Linked DNA regions of Homo sapiens: region 2 is linked to region 1. A link means that fine-mapping ties the variant in region 1 to the plasma level of a protein whose gene starts in the linked region. Region 1 holds a variant in brackets. A gene starts in the other region. All regions are shown on their reverse strands.

Region 1 (14,172 bases):
TGAGTCTATTGAGGTCAATTAACTGGGCACTCTGTGAGGTCTAGAATGATATTTAATGTACTTTTATCTCCCTGTTGGCTATTAGAGTGCCTGAAACATAGTAGATCCTCATATTCAGGAATGAAAGGAAGGTAGTTCATAGGGAGAGGAATAGCAAGATAAGCAAATATAAATTCGGACACCTATTTGACTAGAATTGAAAGACTGTAGAGGTCAAAGAGTTGCCAATCTTATGGGAATAGAAACATGTTTATTTTCTGCTTCTAATCATACAAGTGTAGGATATAGGAGTTGTGAGAGTCTATGCTTCCATAAAATGCTTCAGGGCACCTGGCTGGCTCACACTGTAGCGCATGAGACTCTTAAAATGCTCCCTTTTTTTCTACCAAGATCCTTATCTCCCTCTGCTCAGACTCCTCGCCCTGGGCTCCTGCTTCTCTTATGGCCAGCATCTTGATCCAACTGCCCTCCCTCTGGCCCTTAGAGATCAGAAAGAGGCCAGAGCCAGTGGTCTGCAGTAGTGGGGATGGCTATAGCCTGAAGATGGCCAGTGCCTCTGGAGCCAAGAGGAACCAGGGACAGTTCGGGTAAAAATGGGCTTGGGAAGCAAACGGACTATCGTTTAAGGGATGAGCATACAGATAAGTGATCCCAAAAGAACATACAAAGCTGATCTCAAGGGCGAGGAACTCGTAGATGCCAGTGGATCATCATTACTCCAAATTTCAAACCAAGCCCAAGACTTGGGGTTTCTATTTGAACACATTCTGAGCAGGTTATTGGCACAGACTCAAGGGTCAATCATGGCAGGGGGCAGCTAATCAGATGTTTGTTCCCAGGCCTCTACAACCAGTCATGGGAAGACTGAGGCTTAAGTGCTGTATTAGTCCGTTCTCATACCGCTATAACGAAATGAATGAGGCTGGGTCGTTTATAAAGAAAAGAGGTTTAATTGGCTCATGGTTCTGCAGGCTGTAAAGGAAGCATAGCAGCATCTGCTTCTGGGGAGGCCTCAGGGAACTTACAATCATGGCAGACGGCAAAGCAGAAGCAGGCACATCTCACATGGTGGGAACAGGAGAAAGAGAGGGAGGAGGTGCGACACTGTTTCAAAAACCAGATCTCATGAGAACTCACCACTCACTGTAGAGTACCAAGAGAGATGGTGCTAAAACATTCATGACAACTCCACCCCCATGAGCCAATCGCCTCCCACTAGGCCTTCCCTCCCACACTGGGAACTACAACTCAACATGAGATTTGGTGGGGACACACATCCAAATCATATCAAGAGCTGAAGATCCAGTCCTTGTGTTGACACTGCTGGGGAGCAGACTTTGGGAAGTAAGGGGTCACCAAGGAATAAGGCAAGAAATCAGTTACTTGGAAATTACGATGCCAAGGTCAGAGCAGGATTAACTGTACAAGCAGGAGTTAGAAGAGTCATATAGAGATGCTTCAGAAAAAACATTATAATTATTATAAATATAATACTGTTATAATAATAAGACAGATGATAGGAATTCTAGATGACTGTTTTTTGATATAAAAGCCAAAAAAATCAGAATTCAGTAGATTAAAACAATATTTTTCATATATTAATTACAAGCATGAAGAAGAAAAAGGGGAAATAAAATATAAACACAGTTCAATTGTTCTTTATATTTTAGCATATAGGGAGATAGTACTGGAGAGGCTACTAAGAACAGATACTCAATAAATAAAATATATAACATAAAAATTCCAATAAAGTATAGTGTTTTATATATATATAATATGGTATAAAATATATAAGAACTTGTTCACCTCAAAGTTTATGTTTTTGGTGTCCTTAAATTGAAAACAATTAAATATTCATACATATAATCTGTAGAAATATAAATCTTTTCTTCTTATTTACAAGTTACTTTATTATTACTAAATTAGTTATTTTCTGAATTCTAATTTATCTGATGGTAGAAAACACCCAATTACATACAACCTAGCAATTTGTGCAAACAATGCACTAGGCACATGATTTTCTACAGCATACTATTAAGCTGTATCTTTTTTTAAAGAATTTGGGTGCTAGCGGATTATGAATTAAAAGGTTACTGTGTCAAATTCACATTAACTGGTGGCAAGAACAAAAATCTGGCGTCACCACCGCCGTTCACTTGACAACACCACTGGCTCCAGCATCTCCCCTTCTTCAGGAGCCCCCAGTCTGCATGTGAGTGTCTTGAGGCAGGTTACAAAGTGGCCTAAGGTGTTGACTCTGGAGTTTGATTTCAAAGTCCAGCTGCCCATCTTGCTAGCTGTGGCCTTTGGGGACATTACATAACCTCTGTGTGTCCCATATTCCCCATCTGAAGAATGAGAATAAGAATGCTGTGTATTTGTTGTAAGGATTAAAATATATTCAAATGAGTGAAAATATTTTGGCCAGGTGCCATGAATCATGCCTGTAATCCCTGCACTTTGAGAGGCCGAGGTGGGAGGAACACTTGAGGCCAGGATTTCAAGAACAGCCTGGGCAACATAGTGAGACTCTAACACTATAAAAAAAAAATTGCCAGGCTTGGTGGTGCATGCATGCAGGCCCAGCTACTCAGGAGGCTGAGGCAGGAGGATTGCAGAAGTTTGGGGCTGCAGTGAGCTGACTGTGCCACTGCACTACAACCTGCCTGGGTAACAGAGTGAGACCCGTCTCAAATAAATAAATAAACAAAATAAAATGAGTTAATATATTTAACATCGTAGAGCAAAAGAAGTACTCAGTGAATGCCAGCTATCTATGGACATTATTATAGCCTTGTTTTCAAGGAAGAAAGCCTACTCACTCTACCCTACAAGAGTATCGCATTCTCTCAATATTAATTTAATTGCACATTTAAAAATAACAAAGAGAGCAAAATTGGATTGTTTGTAACACAAAGGATAAATGCTTGAAGGGATGGACACCTCATTTTCCATGATGTGATTATTATGCATTGCATGCCTTTATCAAAATATCACATGTACCCCAACAAATACATACACCTACTATGTACCCACCTTCCTTTATCCTTTTTTTTTTTTCCTTATGTTGCCTGGGGGTGAAGATGGCGGTAGCAGGGCCAGTTCTCGCATATCCCAACATGCTCTGGGGAGTGGCAGCTGACCTCTGTTGCTTACCTCTTTTTGTGTTTAGAATGTGGGGTACTTTGTGCCTTTGGTTCTCAGCTTTGTGCCTCAGCCACCATCCTGAGACAAGAGGAAAAAGCCCATTTGGCAGGCTGTCATGTCACTTTATGAGCTTAAACATTCAGCCTTCCAACATGGCTTACTTTCTGCATGATCAGAGAAAGGACACACATAACCCAGTTTAATACAGTGTTTGTCAAAACAGAAGGCAGGATGCCTTGGCCTCTGTCTAGTATTATGTAAATATTCAAAATTCTTTTTCTTTTTTAAAAAAAAAACTCCCATGAACACAAAGCTCTTTAACCTTGCCTTTCTTCTACCTATTCTCCAGGGAGTTGAGTGGGTCAGAACATTTTGAAAATCATCGTTTTAAATATCAAGTTCATATTTTAAATTCTACATTTTTCATACTTTCTGCTGTTACGATTTAAGTCTCATTTCCCAAAGCAGGCTTCTTAACTTGTTAGCTATAAGCAAATTGAACTACTGGTGCTTTTTTGCTTTTTTAATGTTTATTTATTTGTTGGGGGTTTTGTTGTTGTGTTACTGTTTATTTCAGTTAAAAGCTTTTCTTAAGTTGTGTTTGGCATTTTCTTCTGGGGAGAAGGAAAATTTCAAAAACAAGACCAAAGAAATAACAAACTCGCAGTTAGCATAAAATAATAACAAGTAGAAAATTTTGGCTGAAACCTCTATATTCACTAAGTTTTCCAGAGGCAAATGTTATAGCTAATCACTTCCATATTTGCCTGGAAAATAGTTTGATCCTTGTGAGTCTTTAGTATTCAGCTCTTTGGTAGGAAATTTAATGTAAGCAAAAAGCTTCTTTCCAAATAGGGCTAAAATCTGCTTACTTTAATAAAAGTGTTGTACTATATACTTGACTACAAGATGTAAACTTTATAACAACATTGAACTAATTTTAGATAATCATTTTCTCATTGTTTTGCTTCTTGTTTAATTGCCAAAACAGGATCCTTTTTATAATTTAGCATGTATATGAACGCATGTGCTTCTGAATCTTGAAAATAAATATATGAATAAAGCCTAAATCATTACAAAGGTAAACATCTCACCAAAGCAGGAGTATATGGTTGGTCCCAACCATGTGAAGGCTTTATAAAATGACTAAGGTTCTTTCTTTTCTTTTCTCTTCTGATGTCTATGGCCTATTCACCTACTTAATGTGCAATATATTTTATCTGTAACAAAACAAGAGAGTTGTAAATTTGGCAATCTAGTATCAAAACAATGAACATTTGTTTTTAAATCTTTAAACATCTTTAAAATATGCTACAAGAATGGAATTATCCAATAAGAAAAAAATTTTTTGTTAAGGAAATTAACAAAGCGATAAGGGTAAAAGTGAAAGTTGATGATGTTATAGTATTTTTATTCAAATGTTTGTAGACGGCTCTTCTTGAGATTGTTTATAGTGACCACTACTTCAATCATCCTAAAACCTAGCTTTCTATGCATCTGAACAATAGAGAGGTCCCCATTTGCCACGTTCTCTAAGTCTGTACAGATCAACCTAGGTGAGACCCAATGGGTATTAATTTACATCACCCTCAAGTGGCTTAAGGAACAGACATCACCATTTGGCAGGGTGTGGTGGCTCACACCTGTCATCCTTTCACTTTGGAGGCCGAGGCGGGCGGATGGCCTGACCTCAGGAGTTTGAGACCAGTCTGGCCAACATGGCAAAATCCAGTCTGTACTAAAAATACAAAAAAATTAGCCAGGTGTGTAGGTGCGTGGCTGTGATCCCAGCTACTCAGGAGGCTGAGGCAGGAGAATCGCTTGAACCCGGGAGGCGGAGGTTGTAGTGAGCCGAAATAGCACCATTGCACTCCAGCCTGGGCGAAAGAGCAAGACTCTGTCTCAAAGGAAAAGAAAGAAAGAAAGAAAGAAAGAAAGAAAGAAAGAAAGAAAGAAAGAAAGAAAGAAAGAAAGAAAGAAAGAAAGAAAGAGAAAGAAAGAAAGAAAGAAAGAAAGAAAGAAAGAAAGAAAGAAAGAAAGAAAGAGATATCACTTTTTGGTGACAAAGGGGTAGCTACATTTGCTTCAGTGTTCAAAGAAATACCACAGCAAAAAAGAATTAAGGGATGAAAAGAATAGCAGAAGCTTGCAGTTTTTAGCAAAAACATCTAAGAATGTATGGACTTTTAGAAACTTCAGTGGGTTAGTAAAAAATCTAATAAGGCTAAGAGATTATAAGATTTTGACAAGATTATGGGTGCAGCACACCAACATGGCACACATATACATATGTAACAAACCTGCATGTTGTGCACATGTACCCTAGAACTTAAAGTATAATAATAAAGATTTTTACAAGATTACTATTTTGGGTTCATTTTCAGATGTCCAGAATGATTTATCATGCTCTAAGTCAGGATAACCTGTAGTAACTTTGGTGTTAACATTTCTGCTTTCATTTTAGCTTCATGGGTGAGATAAATTTTACTATTCCGTCTGATAAAACTGTAAGTTCCACCTAAATATACTGTTATTAACAGACTACTCATAACTTGTTTTTTTTAAGATTGTTTTCTACAAAACTCAGAAATTAGAAACTAAGCTCACACCTGTAATCCCAGCCCTTTGGGAGTCTGTGGTGGGAGGATAGGATTGTTTGAAGCCAGGAGTTCGAGACCAGCCTGGGCAATATAGTGACACGCCCCCATTTCTTAAAAAAAATGTAAAAGAAAAAAGAAGAAAGAAACAAAAAACTAGATTCTTATTTCACTCCCCTTTTTTCCTCGATGATTATATCAAGGATTCAGGTGGCAAATTTTAGCAAAGGAAATAAAACTTTCCTAATATCCACTGGAAGATGTACAAGATGCAATTTTAAAACGCTGATTTCTATACCATGTGTTATCTGTCTCCAGTGATACTGAGTAGTCTCATTCAGAGGCTCCCTAAGGCGGGGGGAGAAAAAGACACATAATGAATGTTACATTACCTTGTTTTAAAAACAGATTGTTCAGAGATTTTCAATGATGGGTATAAGCTCAGTGGATTTTACAAAATCAAACCTCTCCAGAGCCCAGCAGAATTTTCTGTTTATTGTGACATGTCCGATGGAGGAGGATGGACTGTAATTCAGAGACGATCTGATGGCAGTGAAAACTTTAACAGGTGTGCTAATTATGATGTAAGACTTTATATGTAGCAGCAAATGTGAGATTTATAAGTCAAATATTTTGATCATATCCTGAAGCCTATTAATTAGACAGAATTTCAATCTCTCTAAAGAAGAATACTGAAAATGAATTAACTAATCAAGAAAATATTGGAGGTGGTGGTAGCAGGGGGTGGGTGGTGGTCGCTTTGGTACCACAAATGGAGTTTGCTCTAATCGGCTTCCACTTTACCTTTTTTAGAGGATGGAAAGACTATGAAAATGGCTTTGGAAATTTTGTCCAAAAACATGGTGAATATTGGCTGGGCAATAAAAATCTTCACTTCTTGACCACTCAAGGTAAGGTTTGAATGATGTCAGATTTATTTGAAATATAATAAAAACAACACTAAAATTTTTTTTTAACCAAATTATAGGCAATGGAACTAATTCAATAATTGCTATGATTTGCAGATGGCAGTGATAACTTTTGGGCAATAATCCCAAATGTAAAATGTGGCTGCCTAAAATTAGAAACAGAAAAAAAAGCTAGAATTGGGTTGCGGGGAATTGTTTTCACATATATATTTATGAGAAATATCTAAATATATTTATAGATATATATACATTCTATACATAGTATATATGTAGCTATATATAGATATATAGAATATAAGTCGCTATATGTATCTATAGATATATATAGAATATATATATATTCTACTTCTGAAAAGGATATATAATGTCATAATTATTCCTTTTTGATGCCTTGAGTTCCTGGAGATTATATATGCTGTATCAGTTACCTAATGTCACAATAATAACGTGTAACAATCCTCTTCCAAAGCTTAGTGGCTTAAAATCAACAACCATTTATTACTTCTCACAAATCTGCAGGTTGGCTGGGTGATTTTGCTGATCAGGGCTGGGCTCTGCTGATCATGGCTGGGCTTGCTTATGAGTCTGCCATCAACTTCCTCACTGAAGTTGCTGCTCTGGGATGGAAGGATTCAACCTGGCTCCATAGGGTCTCTCATCTTCCAGCTAGCTAGCCTGGACTTGTTTTTGTAGCACAGGCAGGGTTCCACAAAAAAGAGTGGATGTATATAAGTCTCTTGAGATCTAGGCCCAGAATTGGCATGGAGTCATTTTTCTTCTATTGGTGAAAGCAAATCACAGGAGCAGCTCAGACTTTTTTTTAAAAGGAAGTAAACAATAGGAGGAGCTATGAAGACATATTATGAGAGAGAGGTGAACAATTGGGCAATTGGTGCTATTTTTCCAATAAAACACTATAATATATGAAATGTCCATGTTTCCACATACATCTCATCTTTAATGCTGAAATTTTTTCAAAGCTGCAACCAATTTGAAAGAAGTTTCAACCTACCACCTGTATCCTACATTAACATTTTACTTTGCTTGTTTTTGTTACGTATCTATCCGTTTGCCCATTACTCAATCCGTCCATCAATCCATCTTTTCTGTATATATATTTCAAAGTAAATAGCAGACATCTGGATGTCTCCCTATATACTTTTAAATTCTTATCTTTAGAGTTTAATATTTGTCTAAAATATCATTGTTTTGATAACGACTTTTCCCAGCTTCTATCTCCCATGTTCTTTTGCTCCAATCCATTGTCTTCCCTACCTCTGTTGTAGTCTGAGATTATCATCAGTCCCACTCAAGTCTGATCCTGAATCCTTCATAAAAGGCAACTGTAATGCCCAAAAAAGCATGCTAAGTTACACTGCAATTGCATTAAAAATAAACAGCTGGGCATGGTGGCTCATGCCTGTAATCCCAGCACTTTGGGATGCTGAGGTGGGTGGACCCCTTGGGGCCAGGATTTCGAGACCAGCCTGGCCAACATGGTGAAACCCCATCTCTACTAAAAATACAAAAATTAGCCAGGCATGGTGGCACAGCACTGTAATCCCAGCCACTTGGGAGGCTGAGGCAGGAGAATTGCTTGAACCCAAGAGGCGGAGGTTGCAGTGAGCCAAGATTGCGCCAATCCACTCCAGCCTGGGTGACAGAGCAAGACTCTGTCTCAAATAATAATAATAATAAAGTAATTAAGATAAAACAAAAGTTCCTTTGTTCCATCCAAGTTCTGGAAAGCTATTGGTGTTTCTATATTTATAGTAGTAGGCTTATGGTTATAAAGTTCTTTGAGACACTAGAATGATAAACATTAGACAGGATGAGTAATCCTAGAAACCTTATACTTTCTTTGTATGTCCTTCTTATGATCAGTGCTCTCTAAATTTACATAACGCTTCCTTTCCTTCAACATATCTATTATTCTAGTTTTAAGTGTTTTATGCCAGATATATAAAATTTGCCATACCAACTTCTGTTTCATTTGCACATTGATATTTATCTGGTTTCTTATTGAAACTATGAAAACCCCAGAGCAGTAACCCTTGGCTCTTTCTAAATATATGAAATTCAAACGTATTATTTTTTAAGTTATTATGATGTACATATTTTCCCAGAGGAACTTTGCCAACAAACCTGTTCCTTTTCATATATCAACTTGGTACTCAGGCTGGCTAATCTCGTTGGAGAAAAAACGTGTTTTTCAGTTCCTGGGCCCCCACCCACGTATCCCATCAATCCAGACAATAGCCAGTGTTTTTGTCTCTGCATTCTTTAATTATGAGAGCATTACGGCTAATGAATTAATGAATTACCTCTGAGAATAGCTTTATCCCCACTACATAAATCTCAACTAGAAGTAGTGGCAATAAAATTGATTTAGAAATGGTAAATATAATTTGTTTACTTATTGAACAAAGAGACATTTCAATGTTAGCCAAAAAATTGAGTCTTTATGTCTCTGTTATAATAGAAGTTTTTTTTTTTTGTTTTTTTTTTTGAGACAGATTTTTGCCTGTTGCCCAAGCTGGAGTGCAGTGGCACAGCCTTGGCTCACTAAAACCGCTGACTCTTGGCTCAAGCAATTCTCATGCCTCAGCCTCCTGAGTAGCTGGGATTATAGGCGCACACCACCACACCCAGCTAATTTTTGTATTTTTAGTAGAGACGGTGGTCTCACCATGCTGACCAGGATGGTCTCAAACTCCTGGCTTCAAGTCATCTGCGTGCCTTAGCCTCCCAAAGTGCTTGAATTACAGGTATGAACCACCGCATCTCGTCTGTAATAGAATATTTTTAAAGACAGTTGACTTAGCCTGCCTTGCTGCTCTTATACACTCTACAGTCTTTTCTCCTGTGACCTTTACTACCTTGAGAGAGCTCCCTGGGGCAAGGAAATTGTGGTGCTAAATCAACAAGCCCAAGAGAGGCCCGCATCACCTCTTAAAGGGACTCCAGTCTTGAGGAATCCAGCATTCCCTGCCCCAACAGCCTTGAGTTTGTTTATAGGACTCCTTCAGGATGTTCTCGTCCTGGTGTGTGCACCCTTAAGCTTGAGGGGAGGCTAAAAAATGGCTTTTTTTTTTTGAGACAGAGTCTCACTCTGTAGCCAGGCTGGAGTGCAGTGGCGCGATCTCGGCTCACTGCAACCTCTGCCTCCCGGATTCAAGCAATTCTCCTGCCTCAGCCTCCTGAGTAGCTGGGATTACAGGCACGTGCCACCATGCCCAGCTAATTTTTGTATTTTTAATAGAGACAGGGTTTCACCATGTTGGCCAGGATGGTCTCGATCTCCTGACCTTGTAATCCACCCAACTTGGGTGTGAATAGAACTTGGATATGCAGCCTGGGATGTCCACAAGTGGATCCAAAGCCCCTTGCTATAAGTGATGGAGATGGGGATGGAAAGAGAGAAGAGGCCAACCAGAGATGGGGCCTAGGTGATAGGACTATTCAGGGACTCTCTTTCCCAGTGCCTCCATGGTCTGGCTTGAAACTCCAAGGAAAGTGAGGCTCTAAATTCTAACCCGACCTTACAGGTCATTGTTATATCTTATTTATCAAAGTAGGAGGATAGAACACATGTGATCTAATAATTTGATTTATAACATTTGGTGCCCCTGACAAGAGTTCTGTTTCTGAAAAAGGAATAGTCTTTGTTATTTCCAAACAATGGGAAAAAAAAGATTACTTGAAGGTAGCAATTATTTTAATCATTTTAAAAACATAATGCTCTTATATCGCCTAGAATTTTTACAGTCATTAAAGTATATCTTTAATGTTTAGAGATTTTTTGTCATCATATATCATTCTTTAGCATATATAAAAGATAATATGTACCCAATACATTGTATTCTTTTTTTTGTTTTTTTGTTGTTTTTTGCGACGGAGTCTCGCTCTGTCGCCCAGGCTGGAGTGCAGTGGAGCAATCTCGGCTCACTGCAAGCTCTGCCTTCTGGGTTCACGCCATTCTCCTGCCTCAGCCTCCCAAGTAGCTGGGACTACAGGTGCCCGCCACCATGCCCGGCTAATTTTTTGTATTTTTTAGTAGAGACGGGGTTTCACAGTGTTAGCCAGGATGGTCTCTATCTCCTGACCTCGTGATCCGCCCGCCTCGGCCTCCCAAAGTGCTGGGATTACAGGCGTGAGCCACCGCCCCGGCCCCATTGCATTCTTAAAATGCTTTCACATGTAGATATCAGTTCTTCAGAAATACCTTTTTACTCAGAGTCATTGATGTTAGTATATTTTCCAGTAATTATCATCATCTCTGCCATTGAGAATGTTGGTGGTACAGCATTTCTCCAGAATGTTTCCTTATTGCCTCTGAAATTCTCTTCCAATGACATCCACTCTACATACTTTGATGCTAAGAGTCTCTTGATCTTATGAGCCAGTATCAAACGAAGGTTTTCGGATAACAATTAGGATTCATATTTCTTCCTCAAATTATTCTTAAAGGGTTTCCTGGCTGATCTTTTATGCTATCAGGAAAATAACCAAGTTCAGGCATATGCAGGCAATGGCAACTACATTTTACAAACCTAGTGGCTCAGCTACTAGAGATTACACAATGTCATTAATAGCCACCATTTATATTCAAGATCAACATTCTTACTGAAATCAAGAAAAAGAGGTCAAACTATTAAAGGTAAAACGTCGACCCTTTCATTGTTAGATTGCTTTAAGTAATCACTTATTTTTTCTGTTGTTCATTATTCAGTGAATTGCACTAGGTTTTACCTCTAAGAGATCTAGTAGACATTTTTTAAATTTAATATTGTATCCATCATTTTTTTTCAAATAAATTACACGATAAAATGTTCATGTTATATATACAAAGGAGTCACTGTTTAATCTTTGAAAACTGATTCTTGGCCAAGGGAAATGGTAAAATTAAAATAGAGCTGTGAATTATTTTTAAACCGCAGTAGTCCGTGTCATGTCACACATTTTTAAAAATTATAATTGCTTGTTTCTTTTTTAGAAGACTACACTTTAAAAATCGACCTTGCAGATTTTGAAAAAAATAGCCGTTATGCACAATATAAGAATTTCAAAGTTGGAGATGAAAAGGTACTACAATTTTCTAAGAAGTAAAACCGTGAATAAATGCTTAAAATGTGCAATATAACCCTGGAGTCAGTGGAAATAAAAATATACAATAGAACCTGTTCTTTTGTTTATGAAATAAACTTAATTTTAAAATGGTCATAGAGGAACTCCACTGACAGCAGAAATGCCCTTTTTCTTTAGAATTTCTACGAGTTGAATATTGGGGAATATTCTGGAACAGCTGGAGATTCCCTTGCGGGGAATTTTCATCCTGAGGTGCAGTGGTGGGCTAGTCACCAAAGAATGAAATTCAGCACGTGGGACAGAGATCATGACAACTATGAAGGGAACTGCGCAGAAGAAGATCAGTCTGGCT[G/T]GTGGTTTAACAGGTTTGATGTCTTATGAGCATAGTTGTAATGGAGTTGATGATATCTCACTGATAGACATTAATTATCAATATAATATGTATGGTAATGTTAGTCTTTATTTATAATATTAGTATTATTAAGTAATCATTCTCATTAGAATTCTTCAGCAATGAAGTCGTTTTGAGGATTTGTTCATTGTGTACATTAGTAAAGTGTAAATGTCATAGAAATAAATTATTACTTTTACAAAGATCATTTGCAAACTGAATTATGGATGAGTTATAAATAGAAGGCCACAAATTCACACAAAGAAAGAGAGAGCATGTATATATATGGAGACTATTTGGCATCCTAATAACCAACTAGTTCTTCACCTGACCATATCACACAAAAGAGCCACCGTTATTGCTGTAATGCTTCTGTATAGTACTACTTTTCAATCACTATGGCTTTCATTAATTCATTGAGTCTAAGCCTCTCCCAATACAGAAATTTCCTTTACAATAATCCAGAAACCTAATTCTACCCTCTGACTGAATACATTCATGTTACTTTATCAGCAAATTCATTCCGTTTTTGATTGTATATAGTTGCTTCTTTTTTTACTGATACAAAATATTTTATATATTTCTGGGGTACATGGGCTAATTTTTGCATTTTTGGTAGAGATGGGGTTTTGCCATGTTGCCCAGGCAGGTCTCGAACTCCTGGCCTCATGTGATCCACCTACCCCGGCCTCCCAAAGTGTTGGGCGTGAGCCACCGCACCCTGCCGAATTCATAAGTTTTAAATTGCATGTCATTCTGAGCAGAGATTCGCACCATTGGATTCTTTCTGCCCAGGAGGTGGGTCACCCCTCTGTCTAGCGTATCCACGCTGAAAGCCCTCCCTGCCCCAAGACACTTAGTAGAAGTCTGAGTTATCAGATCCAGTGTTGGAGTTTCATAGTGCTCGTGTTCGAATCATGCTTATTTGATTTAATAATGGTCCCAAAGCACAAGAGCTGTAATGCTGACATATTGTTATATAATCATAATCTTTTATTATTAGTTGTTGTTAATCTCTTACTGTGTCTAATTTATAAATTAACTTTGTCATAGGTATGTATATTATAGGAAAAAACAGAGAACTACTATAGATGGTTTTTTTCCTTCCTACACCCAAAAGATTTTTCCCCCTAGCGTTCTGAAATTTTACAGTGACATACACTGTCGTGGTCTTCTTTTGGTTTACTGCAGTGGGTACTCAGTGGTTCTTTTGAATCTATATCATGTCTTTCAGTTTGGTAAATTTTATTTTCTTTATCTGCTCGTTACTCACTTCGTAGCTGTTTCGGTTATCAGACTGAAAAAGCATAGTATCAATATATAGAATTTGGTATTATCTGTAGTTTCAGGCATCCACTAGGGGTCTTAGAACGTATCCCCTGCAGATAAGGGAGTACTACTGCTGTTGTAAAAATAGTCATCTTTTCTATATTTTGCTTTTTTAAAAAAACATTTGAGTCCATTTAAGATTTGATCATTTATAAAGGAACTGGAGTATTTCCAGCAGTGTGAAGGAGAGAAACAAATTTCACTCTCCTGCTTTGCAAATTGAAGGTGATGATGGTGTTTTCCTTAGTGGTTTTCCTGTTATTTTAAAAACCGTCTTCTTCACCTGTTCCTACTCCTTTCTTTCCCCCTTGTTCTTCTAAGTCAGCATGACATAAAACTTAACGTGTAATTCATGAAGTCATCTGCAAGCATCACCAATGTTTGATTTTGAAAACAATTCCATATACAGAAATAATTACTAATAGTATCCTGAGATCAAAACCATGTACTTTATCCAGCTGACTGGCTTCTAAGGCATCTGAATGAAAACTACCATGTATATTAATGTGGGCAAAGGAACGATTTACCTGACTTTAAAGAAATGGGTTCAGGGAGCACAAAGAAAGGCCATTCATTAGGTGGAGCCTGCCACAGAGCCCACATTATCCTTGGAATCAAAGGGGTTGATAAGGCTGTGCAATTGGAAAATCAGTAGGCATTAAGGGAGAGAAAGTAGATTGTTTTAGAAACT
Region 2 (14,782 bases), not on the chromosome of region 1:
GGAGGCTGAGGCAGGAGAATGACTTGAACCCGGGAGGCAGAAGTTGCAGTGAGATGAGATTGTGCCATTGCACTCCAGGCTGGGCAACAGAGTGAGACTCCATCGAAAGGAAGGGAGGGAGGAAGGAAGGAAGGAAGGAGGGAAGGAAGGAAGGAAGGAAGATTTAGAGCAGGCAGAAAAGAAAAATAGAGAAAAAGATGACTTAGGAATTCTATAGTTTGCAGGTCAACCTTAGGGCTCTTTTTCCTTAATGTAAATGTGCACAAAGACCACGTTATTTCCATTTTACATAAACTTTGTCAGGTAGAGGTGCCATAAAAGCTACGGAGTGCTCAAAAGGGGGTCATTTTCTTTGTTTTCTCCTCATTCTGAAACCACCTTTGCAAAATTATGACTGAGACAGTGAAAGAGATCTAACTTAAGTGACTCCATCTTGTTTCTAACCTCCAAGCTGTCCTTGTTCATTCCTAGGCGTAAGCTGAACTAACTTTGGGAGAAACTTAGTTTATAGTTTAAACAAAGACAGTAACAGCCCTTTCCCAAAGCTGACTTCATTCTTGCCTGGGGACTAGATTGCCTTTGTAGGACTAACATTAGCCACAAGATTAGAAATTATGGTTTAGGAGTCACGCAGCTGGAGGCTACAAGATCCTGATCCTCCCTAAACTACTCCTAAGATCAGTGCTTGAGATATTTTGCTGACCCTGCACTTGATGGATCAGCTGGCCCCACCCAGATCAATAAACTGGCTCATCTGATCTTGTGGCCCTCACCCAGTAATTGACTGGGTGCACGAAGACAGCTCTGAGTCCCTATGATTTCATCTCTGACCAATCATCACCCCTGGCTCACTGGCTTCCCCCCACCCACCAAGTTATCTTCAAAAACTCTGCTCCCTGCTGGGCATGGTAGCTCATGCCTGTAATCCCAGCACTTTGGGAGACTGAGGCAGGTGGATCACTTGAGGTCAGGAGTTCAAGACCAGCCTGACCAACATGGTGAAACCCCATATCTACTAAAAATACAAAATTAGCCGAGCATGGTGGCACATGCCTGTAATCCCAGCTACTCGAGAGGCCGAGGCAGGAGAATCACTTGAACCCAGGAGGCGGAGGTTGCAGTGAGCCAAGATCATGCCATTGCACTCCAACCTGGGCAACAAGAGCGAAACTCTGTCTCAACAGCAACAACAACTCTAAAACTCTAGTCTCCTGCACCTGCACAGCCGGCTCTGCATGAAATACTCTTTCTCCACTGCAATTCCCCTGTCTTGATGAATCGGCTCTATCTAGGTAGTGGGCAAGGTGAACCCCTTCAGTGGTTACATCCTGAGGGCTGTGTCACAGGCCATGGTTGCTCATATTTGGCTCAGAATAAATCTATTCAAATATTGTACAGAGTTTGACTCTTTTCATTGACAGGTACTTAATTTTTGCTTTCCTTTTAGAAGCACATACAGTGTCAAAGTTCTCTTTGCTACACTTCATTTGTAATGGAAAAAACTCCAGCCTTTTTTCTTTGCAAGCTTGGCTGAGACCAACTAGGGACAGGGCTGATGGTTTTCACAGCTCCCTTCATGGAGAGAAATCACTCCTCTGATTCCTTTGCCAGTCTCCATCTTGACTTGTGAGAAGGGAATAGTGATTCCCTTCTCTGTGGCTCACCTCACAGAGGTCCTGGGGGTGGGGAGCAGGTAGAGAAAAGAGAAGGAAGGATCAGAGTGAACTCATAGGAAAAAGTGCTTTCAAACATTGAGTTCTATAAAAGAGAGGGGGGATAGTGTTCTTTCATCAATGGTATTTCTGCATCGCTGGAACCAAATTGGTTTTTCTCATTTTGAGAGTCTCCTGGTTGTTCCTCCAGCTATTTCTCTACATTCCACACCCCAGGGATGTAAAGGTGAGAGGAAGGGGGTCATATTACATGGCTGGGCACCCACCATGTGCCAGGCACTTCCGAAGGTGTTCCACGTGCATTGTCTTAATCATGACCTCAGGAAGTAGGAGGCGTTATCCCCCTAAGATAAATAAGGAAAGTGAGGTTCAGGGAGCTTCACTTTCAATAATGTGTCTGAGGCCACGTAGCTCCAGTAAATGCTGAATTTTGAAGCCAGCTTGGTCTGGATCAAAGCTGTGCTTGAGGCTGGGCACAGTGGCTCACACCTGTAATCCCAACACTTTAGGAGGCCGAGGTGGGAAGATTGCTTGAGCCCACGAGTTTTAGACCTGGGAGGCTTAGGGGGAAGATTGCTTGATCTCAGGAGGTGGAGGCTGCAGTGAGCCAAGATGGCACAACTGCACTTCGGCCTAGGTGACAGAGTGAGACCTTGTCTCAAAAAATTAAATTAAATTAAATTAAAAGCTGTGCTTGAGGCCTGGGCCTCTCAGTGGAGCTGTCTTCTACCTCCTGGGATGGAGAGGGGAAGGGCAGGGGCCTCTGGCTGCCATGACTAGTCCTTCAGGAAAAGCTGCTCTGTTCCCATGCCTGAGCAAACTCAGGCAGCTGTGCCCTTCCCAGCTTCCTGAGGCCCCTGCTCCATCTGAGGCTCATGAGACCTCTTCATTCTCAGCCAGGACTAGCGACTGCTCACGCGCGCACGTGGCCTTGGGTAGGGGGCAGCGTGAGTGGAAACCTTAACTAAAGGGGTGAGTATCTGATGCTGGAATTGCAGATAGTAAGTGAGGTAGAAAGGAAAGGGGAGAGAGGCATTTAGGAAGGGCCTCCTAAGGGCCCTTGAGTCAGGCCTGCAGGCAGCCCCTGGTGTGAGGGCAGGGGGAGGGTGCCAAAGTGAAAGCACACACACCCTGGCCTGCTGGGGGTTGCAGAACTGTCAGCCCCAGGGATCTGGGCATGGCCTGGAATCCCCCGAGGAGACTGAAGGAAGGTTGAGGGGTGGGAGGCTAGGATCCTCGTCCCTGGAGTCTGACACTGCTAGACACCTGGGCTTGGGTGGGCCAAAGGCAAGGCCTGACTATAGTGAGGCAGAGAGGCCCCAAGTACACAGAATGTAAGCAGGCACTCACACCATAGGTGCCTCTCTTGCCTTGGATTCGTCCAGGCACTGCCCAGGAGCTCAAGACACAAGGGCAGCCACCCTTACCCACTGCTTATGTGGCATATGGGAATATACAATATAAATATATTCTTATAATTGTATATAATAATGTTTATATATATGTAACACATAAATGTGTATTAATTCAACCCTCACAACTCTTTAAATTATCCTTAGTTGACAGATAAGATGAAAGGCAGAATAGTTGGAACAGATAGTAAGTTTGCCTCACTAATAACTTGTACACAGTCCATACTCTTAACCACGATGCAACACAATTATCACCAACACACACACACACACACACACACACACACACACACACACGAAAAAGGCCACCAGGTACTCACCCAGTTTCCTTATCAGGAACCGCCCCACAGCAGATTGGCCACAGCTGTGCCTCTGCCCACGGCCAGCCCTGTGGGATGCAGGTGGATCTCGTGAGGTCAGGGCCCCTTTTATAGCCCCATCACCACAGCTGGCTCTGTCTCCCGCCACCCACACCAGCTGTCCCACTCACCATGGAGAAGATCCTGATCCTCCTGCTTGTCGCCCTCTCTGTGGCCTATGCAGCTCCTGGCCCCCGGGGGATCATTATCAACCTGGTAAGAGGGTCTTCAGGGGAGGCGCCTCCTGAGTCCCCAGATGAAGACTTCCTAAGCTTGGACCTTGACCTCTGATGTCTCCACCTGGACTGGCAGGGGCTGGGAGGAGTGGCATCTTGCATCCCTCTGTTTACTTCCATGTCCTGTCCTATGCCTCTTCCCAGAGGCCACAGGAAAGGCTGATCAGCCCCTCTCCAGCTCCAACTGGAGCATGCTCAGAGCAGCAGCTCAACCTGGCTATGAGGGACCTTTTTTTTCTTTTTTTTCTTTTTGAAACGGAGTCTTGCTCTGTCACCAGGCTGGAGTGTAGTGGCACAATCTCGGCTCACTGCAATCTCTGCTTCCCGGGTTCAAATGATTCTCCTGCCTCAGCCTCCCAAGAAGCTGGGATTACAGGTGCCTGCCATAACGCTCAGCTATTTTTTGTATTTTTAGTAGAAATAGGGTTTCACCATGTTGCCCAGGCTAGTCTCAAACTCCTGACCTCGTGATCCGCCCACCTCGGCCTCCCAAAGTGCTGGGATTACAGGCATGAGCCACCTCACCTGGCCCTACGAGGGAGCTTTGTAAAAATCCAGAGCCCTGGGCTTCCATCCTGAGAAAATGCTTTGCGCCAATCATTCCAGCTTCTGACTTATGGAGATGCCTCGGAGATGTTTACTCATTCTGTTCTCATAATAACCACTGAGGGAGGTGTTTTCAGAGTCAGCCCTGTCTTCAGACAGAGAGAGGGTGAGCAACCTGCCTGAGGTCACATAGCTGGAAAGTGGTTCAGCTGGGGCCCCACCACTGCCCCACACCACCTCTCCACCATGGGTCTTGGCTGGGAAAGCCCTTCCAGAACGTCCATGCGGTTGAAAGGTTCTGAACTCTCTTAACTTGGGGCCATGGCTGGACTTGGAGGTCCAGGACCCTTGGAGATTATAGATCAGATCTGTTGGGGGAGGAAGGAGTCTTGCAGGGAGATGCAATCTTCACCGCCTCCTTAAAGAGGTGTGGGACCCAGAGTGGTTTGGAGAACTTGTCTAGGGGCCTTGTGTGCACATTCCAAATGGGAACACTGAGGCTTGGGAGGCAGTGACTTGCCCAGAGTCACACAGGAGGTTGGTAGCACAGCCGGTACTAGAACCCAGGGGTCCTGACCCTCTGTGCAAGTCTGCTTCTCTGTCACCGCATGCCCACTTCTCACGTGGGTGGGGGGCACAGAGGCCACCAGACCCAGGGGATGGACTCCTTCACACACATCCCTACCAGGGGAGACACTGTTAGTGGTAGTGTGTGGTGGGTACAGGTCTGAATGGAGAAGGGACCTGAGGGAGTGGGGCCTGGGCTGACTGGCTGCTCCTGGCAGGAGAACGGTGAGCTCTGCATGAATAGTGCCCAGTGTAAGAGCAATTGCTGCCAGCATTCAAGTGCGCTGGGCCTGGCCCGCTGCACATCCATGGCCAGCGAGAACAGCGAGTGCTCTGTCAAGGTGGGTGCCTGAGGACTTGGCGTGGGTGGGGGAGAATGGGGAGTAGGGCCCTGAACACTTGTGAGTGGGATCAGGGAGGGGGGTCAGCCTGGACACTGAATGTTGAGGAGACGAGAGGGAGGTCGACAGGTGTCAAAGCACTTTCCCATCCCATCATCTCTCTTGACCCTCCCGAGTGACCAGTGAGATGGGTGGGGGTGGGGATTTGTTATCCCCATTTCATGGCTGGGTAAATAGAGGCTCCCCAGAGAGATCAAGCTAGTAAGAGCAAATGAGCCAGAGCAGAGGTCAGAGCTGGGGTCTCCAGGGCCCACGGCACCCCTGGGGAGGCAGGTGGGAGAGGCACTCCCCGAAAACACAGGCTGGCCTACTGGTTCTCTAGGTCAGGCAGGGGACAAGTGATGTCCAAAGTATCTCCCCATAGCCTTGACTCCATTGGCTGTGTCTCTGCAGACGCTCTATGGGATTTACTACAAGTGTCCCTGTGAGCGTGGCCTGACCTGTGAGGGAGACAAGACCATCGTGGGCTCCATCACCAACACCAACTTTGGCATCTGCCATGACGCTGGACGCTCCAAGCAGTGAGACTGCCCACCCACTCCCACACCTAGCCCAGAATGCTGTAGGCCACTAGGCGCAGGGGCATCTCTCCCCTGCTCCAGCGCATCTCCCGGGCTGGCCACCTCCTTGACCAGCATATCTGTTTTCTGATTGCGCTCTTCACAATTAAAGGCCTCCTGCAAACCTTTCCCAGTCTCCTGCATATTCTTTCTGACTCAGCATCTTCTCTGAAGTTGCATCAGGCCTTTGGTCCACCAGGGCAGGCTTCAGGCAGGTCAGAAGAACAAGGGATGGGTCTGGGGCTGAAGAAGTTGTGGCCAAACAGATTGGAGACTGAAGACAAAGCTGTGAAGGAGACCCAGCCAGCCTAGGAAACCCTCCATTTCTGGGGAGAAGTCACACCTACCTGGGATGCCCTCCTTGTCCCTCCGGTTCTCAAAGAGACAAGCGGGCACATGTGCATGCGCGCGCACATACACACACACACACACACACACACACACACACACTTGTGGGTAAGGAGTTTTAATGGCCCATGTTCGTCACCCTGCATCAGAGGCATCAGAATCCTGGGCTCTCACCTCTTTTCTGGACACAATTCTCAAATATGACAGCTAGCTGACACAACTCATGTGTTAAGGGGTCAGACCACTCTCAATTGCTATGAGCTTACTCTCTGCCAGCAAATGCTCACAAGGATCCCAGGAGGGAGAATTTCTCATCTCCACTTTATAGATAGAGACCAAGTTTCAGAGAGGAGCTTGCCCAATGTCACATAATCAGAAAATGTTGGCACTCTACCATCTAACTCCACTGCCCTGCTTCTATGATTCCTTTTTTTTTTTTTTTCTGAAACAGAGTCTCTCTCTGTTGCCCAGACTGGAGTGCAGCGGAGTGATCTCTTGGCTCACTGCAACCTCCACCTCCCAGGTTCAAGCGATTCTCCTGCCCCAGCCTCCCCTAGTAGCTGGGATTACAGGCGCCTACCACCACGCCCGGCTAATTTTTGTGTTTTTAGTAGAGACGGGGTTTCATCGTGTTGGCCAGGCTGGTCTCAAACTCCTGACCCCAGGTGATCCACCACCTCAGCCTCCCAAAGTGCTGGGATTACAGGTATGAGCCACCGTGCCCGGCCTTATGATTCCTTTTTCTTTCCCAATTATTCGCATTAAGAAAAATGGGTGGAAACTGCAAGGAATTTAATTTTGCCTTAATATAAAAATTGTATATCCCCTGGAGCCATCAAACATGAGTTACCTTAGGCAGTACTGAGGTGCCCATCATCCAGGTACGCAGGTGGAAGCTCACTGACCCCTCGGTGGAGATGCTAGAGAGGAGATTCCCACAGAGAGTGAGGGACAGTGAACTGAATGAAACTTCGATGTCGTCCCAGCCCCAGGATCTTGCAGTTCTGTGATCAATGAATCCTCCTGTAACCACAGGCTTATGAGTTAGGATTGCATTCAACTGTGAGTAGCAGAAAAACCCAAGTAATTATGGCTGAAGCAAATAGGAACGTATATTTCTCATGAATCCAAAGCAAAGACACAGGAAGTGCTGGCATTCTTTTGGTGGCTGGTAGCTCTTGACCTTCTCTTCAAGGTTGCCACATGCCTTAGCAGCAGCTCATGACTTCACGTTCTCACCGTATTCGAAGGCAGGAAGCATGGAGTAGCTGGCAGCTGGGAAGGCGGGAGAAGGAGCAGAGAGTTTCTTCTTGCATACCCTTTTTTTTTTTTTTTTTGAGACAGAGTTTTGCTCTTGTTGCCCAAGCCAGAGTGCAGTGGCACGATCTCGGCTCCCTGCAACTTCTGCCTCCTGGGTTCATGCGATTCTCCTGCTTCAGCCTCCCAAGTAGCTGGGACTACAGGCGCCTGCCACCACGCCTGGCTGATTTTTTGCATTTTTAGTAGAGACAGGGTTTCACCATGTTGGCCAGGCTGATCTTGAATTCCTTACCTCAGGTGATCCACCTGCCTCGGCCTCCCAAAGTGCTGGGATTACAGGCATGAACCATGGCACCTGGACCATACCCTCTTCTTATCTTTCCTCAAATCCTCAAGGCCGACTTCTCTTCATATCTCAGTGGCTAGAACTAGGTTATCTGACTACTTCTAGCTGCAAGGGACGCTGGGAAAGCAAAGGGAATAAGATCCTTCTCCTGGGGCCAGGTTCATTGATGCCCAAACAATATTGGGTTTCAGTTGGCAGGGAAGGGGGCAATGGCTATTAGGAAACCAGGTAATGGTGTCTGCCACATATGAATTATGTGCTCAACAAGAGGAGCTTTCAATACCTTAACCCAGGAGGGGTCTCAGGCCCTGAGCAGGGCTGAGTCACGCTTCTTGGTGCCACATTCGGTCCTGGAGATCTGCATTCATGTCCCCTTCATGTGTTCACTGAATGACCACAGTGTGCCTGGCACCGTGTTTTGGACTGTGGGGGGCATAAGGAAAATGTCCCTGGTCTTCAAAAGTGAGTAGGGAGTTGGGCTTTGGGCTCTGCAGAAGCAAGTGACCAAGACCCCAACCATTATGTAGCTTCCATTTTATTTCCAACGGCCAGTGCTCCTGTAGACTCTCAATTTCTGCTGCTTTTCAGCATCACACGCCTACACAGCAGAGGCACAGTCTAACCACAGCTCAAGGAACCAGATGGTCCCCACTTACAATGGTTTGACTGACAATTTTTCAACTTTATGATGGTGCAAAAGCAATATGCATTCAGTAGAACATCAATAAATTACATGAGATATATTCGACACTTTATTCTAAAATAGGCTTTGTGTTATTTTTCCCAGCTAATGTAAGCATTCTGATTGAGCACATTTAAGGTAGGCTAAGCTAAGCTATGATATTCAGTAGGTTAGGTGTATTAAATACTTTTTTTTTTTTTTGAGACAGGGTCTCACTCTGTGACCCAGGCTGGAATGCAGTGGCATGATCATGGCTCACTACAGCCTTGACATCCTGGGCTCAAGTGATCCTCCCACCTCAGTTCCCCAAGTGCTAGAACTATAGGCGTGTGCCACCATGCCTGGCTAATTTATTTATTTATTTATTTATTTATTTTTGTGGCGGGGGGAAGATGGAGTCTGTCTCTGTTGCCCAGAGTGGAGTGCAATAGTGCGATCTCGGCTCACTGCAGCCTCTGCCTCCCAGGTTCAAGCAATTCTCCTGAATCAGCCTCCCGAGTAGCTGGGACTACAGGCACATGCCACCACGTCCAGCTAATTTATTTATTTATTTATTTATTTGTATTTTTAGTAGAGATGGGGTTTCACCATGTTGCCCAGGCTGGTTGCGAACTCCTGAGCTCAGGCAATCTGCCCACCTAGGCCTCCGAAAGTGCTAGGATTATAGGTGTGAGCCTCCATGCCCGGAGTTAATTTTTATATTTTTAGTGGAGATGGGGTTTCACCATGATGCCCACACTGGTCTTAAACTCCTAGGCTCAAGCAATCCGCCCACCTCAACCTCCTAAAGTGCTGGGATTACAGGCACAAGCCACCACACCTGCCCATTAAATGTATTTTCTTTTTCTTTTTCTTTTTTTTTTTTTGGAGACAGAGTCTAACTCTGTCACCCAGGCCGGAATGCAATGGCACGATCTCGGCTCGCTGCAACCTCCGCCTCCCGGGTTCAAGTGATTCTCCTGCCTCAGCCTCCCGAGTAGCTGGGATTACAGGCGTGCCCTCCACGCCCAGCTAATTTTTGTATTTTTAGTAGAGACGGGGTTTCACCATGTTGGTCAGGCTGGTCTCGAACTCCTGACCTTGTGATCCGCCTGCCTCAGCCTCCCAAAGTGCTAGGATTACAGGCGTGAGCCCCCGTGCCCGGCCTATTAAACGTATTTTCAACTTACGATATTTTCAACTTAAACAATGTGTTTATCAGGATGTAGCCCCATCGTAAGTCAAGGAGCATCTGTACTTTATTCCCTACAAATCTCTCTGGATTCTGACAACGGCAGCCTCTACCAATGACCACTTTTCCCATAGGGCAGCGGAATCCCCATGGCTTGTGAAGGGGTCTAGAGAATGCCACTGAAGCATAAAAATTATTCTGAGCAGAAGGCATTTGAAAATGGGCCTTTTTCTTTTCTTTCTTTCTTTTTTTTTTTTTTGAGACAGAGTCTTGCTCTGTCACCCAGGCTGGAATGCAGTGGTGCGACCATGGCTCACTGCAGCCTCAACCTCCTGGTGCTCAAGTGATCCTCCTGCCTCAGCCTCCTAAGTAGCTAGGACTACACGTGCGTGCCACCACCGGCTATGTTGCTGTTGTTGTTTGTTTTCAGACACAGGGTTTCGCAATGCTGCCCAGGCTGGATGAGAATAGGCTCTTTTCTGAACTCCTTTGTCTGCCTAAATGCAGAGCCCTGCAAAAGAGCTCCATTGTCATAAATCCCCCTCCCAGGAGTTTCTCAAAACCAGGGAAAATTGACTTATTGCTGGAGGGGAGAATAGTTGGCACCACACCTAAACAGTCAGGTCACGAAACTATAATAGCTCCCATCTTTTCTCCTAAGGGCCCATTCATCTTTCCTAAAAATTACTTTTCTATAAGTGTCCTTTCTCCTCCTCCCCTTCTTCTATTGAGATGGTACATAACCCGCAAATTCTAACTTCCTTCTAGAGTCACACTCTTCCATGAACTTCCCTACATTCTGAATAAAAATCGGTCATTTCTCTTTTATCGGTTTAATTCTCAGGCCTTCAAGTACTGAACCTAAGAGGATAGAGGAAAAGTTTTCCTCCCCCAACACTTGGAACCAGTTTAGTCATGTCAGCAACGTATCTTCCCCAACTCCCTTTCTTTTTTGTTTCTTTTTTTTCCTTATTAGGCTAAAAACGTTTATTAAAAAAATTAACAACTTTGTTTTAAAGCATTTTATATTCCTGGATGAAAATATCCAATATTGGAAAAAAGTGAAATTTCAGCCGGGCACAGTGGCTCATGCCTGTAATCCCAGCATTTTGAGAGGCTGAGGCAGGATTGCTTGAGGCCAGGAGTTTGAGACCAGCCTGGGCAACATGGTGAGATCTCCCCCTCCCCATCTCTACAAAAATCTTAAAAATTAGTTAGGTGTGGTAGCGCACACCTGTGGTCCCAGTTACTCAGGAGGCTGAGATGGGAAAATCACTTGAGCCCAGAAGGATGAGGCTGCAGTGAGCTGAGATGGAGCCACTGCACTCTAGCCTGGGTGACAGAGTGAGACCCTGTCTCCAACAAAACAAAACCAAACCATAAAATTTCCTCAAATTAATTTTTTTTTTTGAGACAGGGTCTTGCTCTCTTGCCCAGGCTGGAGTGCAGTGGTATGATCTCGGCTCACTGCAACCTCCACCTCCCAGGTTCAAGTGATTCTCCCACCTCAGCCCCCTGAGTAGCTGGGACTGCAGGCATGCACCACCACACCCAGCTAATTTTTGTATTTTTAGTACAGATGGGGTTTCACCATGATGGCCAGGCTGGTCTCGAACTCCTGACCTCAGATGATCCACCCAACTCGGCCTCCCACAGTGCTGGGATTACAGGCATGAGCCACCGTGCTCGGTCCAGAGCTTTTCAGCATGTAGTCCCATTTGTTTATTTTTGCTATTGTTGCCTGTGCTGTTGGTGTCTTATCCAAAAAATCATTGTCAAGACCAATGTCGTGTAATAGTTCCCCTATATTTTCTTCTAGGAGTTTTACAGTTTTGGGTCTTATATTTAGGTCTTTAATCCATTTTGAGTTTATTTTTGTGTGTGCTATAAGGGTCCAATTCCATTCTTTGGCATGTGAATATTCAGTTTTCCCAACACCATTTATTGAAAAGACTATCCTTTCCCCAAGGTGTCTTCTTGGTGCCCTTGTTGAAACTTAATTGGCTGTACAGGCTTGGGTTTATTTCTGGGCTCTGTATTCTCCCCTTCCCCTTCTAACTTCTTGACATTGGGTATCCTTGGGAACTTCTTAGACATTGGGTATCATTGGGTTTCCAGCCTGCCACCTCTCCTTCCACGGTCATTTCATAGGTTTTCTCTGAATGGGGAGAGCTCACATAACACAATGGAAGTCTGGTTATCTGTCTGATACATTTAGTACAGGACAGCATATTCTACCAAGGTATGGTTCACATCGTTTTGCTATGACTTACAAGGGGGCGTTCTAAGTACAACCATAGTTTACCTCCAAACTCCCCAGCCCTTGCATCCTAAGCCCAACATCCTGGAGGGCATGTTTGGCTCAGTTCTGGTGGCTGAATGTGGAAATTTAGGTCCAAAATCTGAAATAATTAACTCCAAAATGTAACCTGAATATAACAGGCACTACTCACAGACAAGCGAGCTAGCATCTAACTCCAAAAGCCTCACCACACACTGAGACTTCCTAAAACTCCACTTGACTCATTCTCTCTCCAACCCCACACCACAGTCGCTGCTCCAGTCTTTCTTTCTCACTCTTTCCTAGGCTCTCCTTCCTTCCTTCCTTCCTTCTTTTCTTGTCCCTCTTTTCTCTTGCCTCCCAGAAGATTCAGATTCAGCACTTTCCAACTGTGTGACCTTGAACAAGTTGCTCAACCCGTTTCCCTACCTGTAAAACAGAGGTGATAACAGGAGAGACCCCACAGGTTTGTTGCAGGATTAAATGAGATCATGTGCATAAGGCAGCTAGAGCGGCCCCTAACATCTAGTAAGTGCTCAATAAACATCCTCAATTCTTTATACACATGGATATTTTGTGTACCTTCTTTCACATTTCTGAAATTTAAGGTCGTGGAACTGGAATATCAGGTGTAAACTGGGCTTCCGGGGGGTAGATTACAGAGTGGGCTGAAGGCAGAAAGGGGTTGGGGTGGGAAGGGAGCTTTGGTCTCTTCTGGGGGACTTTCATTCATGCCCCAACTGGGGAAAGACCCCAAGTCCAACAGTGTCCCTTCCTGCTTCCTCCCTCATATCACCTCCCCACCCCCCAGAAACCTGTACCATGCCCACCCCAGCCCAGCCCACCCAGGCCCCAACTCTGTGGGCAGCAAACATTGAAAAAGCTCTTTATTTCAATCACTCCCCACTTCCCTCCACTCATGGTGGAGGCTCTGGGGAACAGGGTGAACACAGAGCTCTGGGTAGGGAGGAGAGCAGGTGGAGGAGGAGGAGGCAGCAAGAAGGAGGGAGCACTAGAAGAACATTTTCTTAGCCAACTTCTGCCTTCCAATTTTCTGACAACGGCCATAGGCGATGCTAAGCCATTTCTCATTCTTTGAATATATACAAGTCAGGTTCCGCAGGCAGGGACACGCTCTATATTGGCCAAAGAACACCTGGGAAAGACAGGACTTTGACCTCGACCTTGGCGGCAGCTCTTCCCTGAGCCCCTAAGCCCAGCCCAGCCCAGCTCCAGGGCCCATGTGCTTGCCCACAGCCAGGATCCAGGGATAAATGATAGCTTGCCAGCTGCTCAGAGTGGCACCTCTGGCTGCCTTCTCCAGGCTGGCTCCTGGATTGTTCAGTGTCCTCCCAGCTCCAGACCTTGTAACCCTGCCTGTCACTGACCCATCTGCCTGTCCTAAGTCCATGGACACACCATCGCAGGACCTCTATGTCTTGTCTTTAAATCCTTCCATGGGCAAATCAACTCCCTCCCCTACACACCCAGCTCAGAGGCTGCCTCTGCCCATCCTCCACCAGGAACACCCGGGGCCACAGCAGAACTCCTGAGCTGGATGAAGACGGGGCTCTGGGGCAGAGGCTGGACCTAGCTGTGCCCATTTACTGTACTACTTTCGGAATTTGCTGAGAAGACTCCTGGAGAATGTGAACCCACATTAGAAAGTGAAACATCGCCTTCCCGCCCCAATCCAGGATTCCAAAACCCTAGGGTGGGCTACCATATTGGTTCCGTCCACAGGCTCCCCCAGAAGGCTTGGAGGTGCAGTCCCACGGGGGAATTCCAGGCTCCAGGGCATTTCCGCCCACCTACCCTTCTTTCCTCCCCAGGAATCTGGGCCCGCCCTGGCTCCCACTTCCCCTGGATCCCCTCTGGCTCCCCCCGGGCGGCGATACCCACCTGCGTTTGACACAGACTGCCCTCGGACCCCTTCTCCGCGCAGTGCGACTCGCAATTGTCTGGAGCACGTTGGCAGCAGCCAGTCTCGCAGTCCTGGTTCCGGATGCAAGACTCCTTGAGCTCCTGCAGGGAGGGACACGGCACCGCCAGGCTCCACCGCCCGCCTTCCGCCCTCGCCGCCCCGCCTGGGGCTTTCTCCCTACGGGGCTCCTCCCCAGACTCTGCTCCCACCATCACCTCTGGCTCCTGCCAGGCAGGGTGGTCTCTACGTGGGGGCCGGGGTAAGTCTGTGCAGACGGTGGATGCCTGGAGGGGACTGAACAGTTTTTAAAAGGTTTACTCTTGGTGTCCTCAACATAGGCTGCTTCTCATACACACCAGAGTGGTCTAGACTTTCCTGTCTCTCTCTTGCACTTCATTCTGCTGCAGAGCCTTCTCGCCCCAAAACTCATACTCACCCTTTCACCTGTGCCTGATGGTCACCTACATGCATTCCCACCGCCCCTCCCCCTACACACATCAATGACCTCCACCCAGCACTGGGGCTTAGGACAGTAATTAACATTATTGATCACAGCCACCCATCATCTCTGACAATTTCAATAGTCATTCAACAGGCAAATACTGAGCACCTACTGTGTGCCAGGCACTGTTCCAGGCACTGGGAATACAGCTGGGAACAACAAAAACAGAAATCCCTGTCCACCTGCAGCTGACATTCCAGAGCAGCACTGTCCAACAGAGCTTCTGCAGTGACGAAAATGTGCTTTTTCTGCCCAGTCCAATAGCCACTAGCCACTACTGAGCACTTGAAATGTGGTAGTGCAACTGAGGAGCTGAATTTAAATTTTCTTTTCTTCTTTTTTTTGAGATGGAGTCTTGCTTCCATCGCGCAGGCTGGTATGCAGTGGCGTGATTTCGGCTCACTGCAACATCCACCTCCTGGGTTCAAGCAATTCTCCCGAGTAGCTGCGATTACAGCCGTGCGCCACCATGCCTGGCTAATTTTTGTATTTTTAGTAGAGACGGGGTTTCGCC

Which allele goes with the higher level. Alleles are on the strand shown, and positions count from the first base shown. The strength of an association depends on the size of the effect and on how common the allele is.
In carriers of allele G in region 1, the plasma level of the protein whose gene starts at base 3,542 in region 2 tends to be lower than with T alone (weak association).

The links. PIP is the chance, under the fine-mapping model, that this variant and not a neighbour inherited with it causes the effect. The UK Biobank Pharma Proteomics Project read protein levels with antibody pairs (Olink). The fine-mapping took linkage between variants from a reference panel, not from the people measured, so its PIPs are less certain.
Region 2: CLPS starts here. The variant in region 1 is fine-mapped to the plasma level of the CLPS protein (UK Biobank, PIP above 0.99).

The regions. Positions count from the first base shown.
Region 1 is chr8:17,866,502-17,880,673 of GRCh38, reverse strand. FGL1 (fibrinogen like 1) reads left to right here. Exons shown (of 8, transcript NM_004467.4): 4 at 6,153-6,312; 5 at 6,558-6,655; 6 at 11,670-11,758; 7 at 11,939-12,126. Among named protein-coding and RNA genes, the nearest start is that of FGL1, 22 kb to the left of the region's middle. The variant G/T (reference allele first, on the strand shown) is at 12,114.
Region 2 is chr6:35,786,083-35,800,864 of GRCh38, reverse strand. It overlaps CLPS (colipase), which reads left to right and starts at 3,542. Exons shown (of 3, transcript NM_001832.4): 1 at 3,542-3,660; 2 at 5,012-5,134; 3 at 5,588-5,883. The coding sequence starts at 3,577. The coding sequence ends at 5,719. It overlaps CLPSL1 (colipase like 1), which reads right to left. Exons shown (of 3, transcript NM_001010886.5): 2 at 13,745-13,867; 3 at 12,715-12,998. The coding sequence ends at 12,855.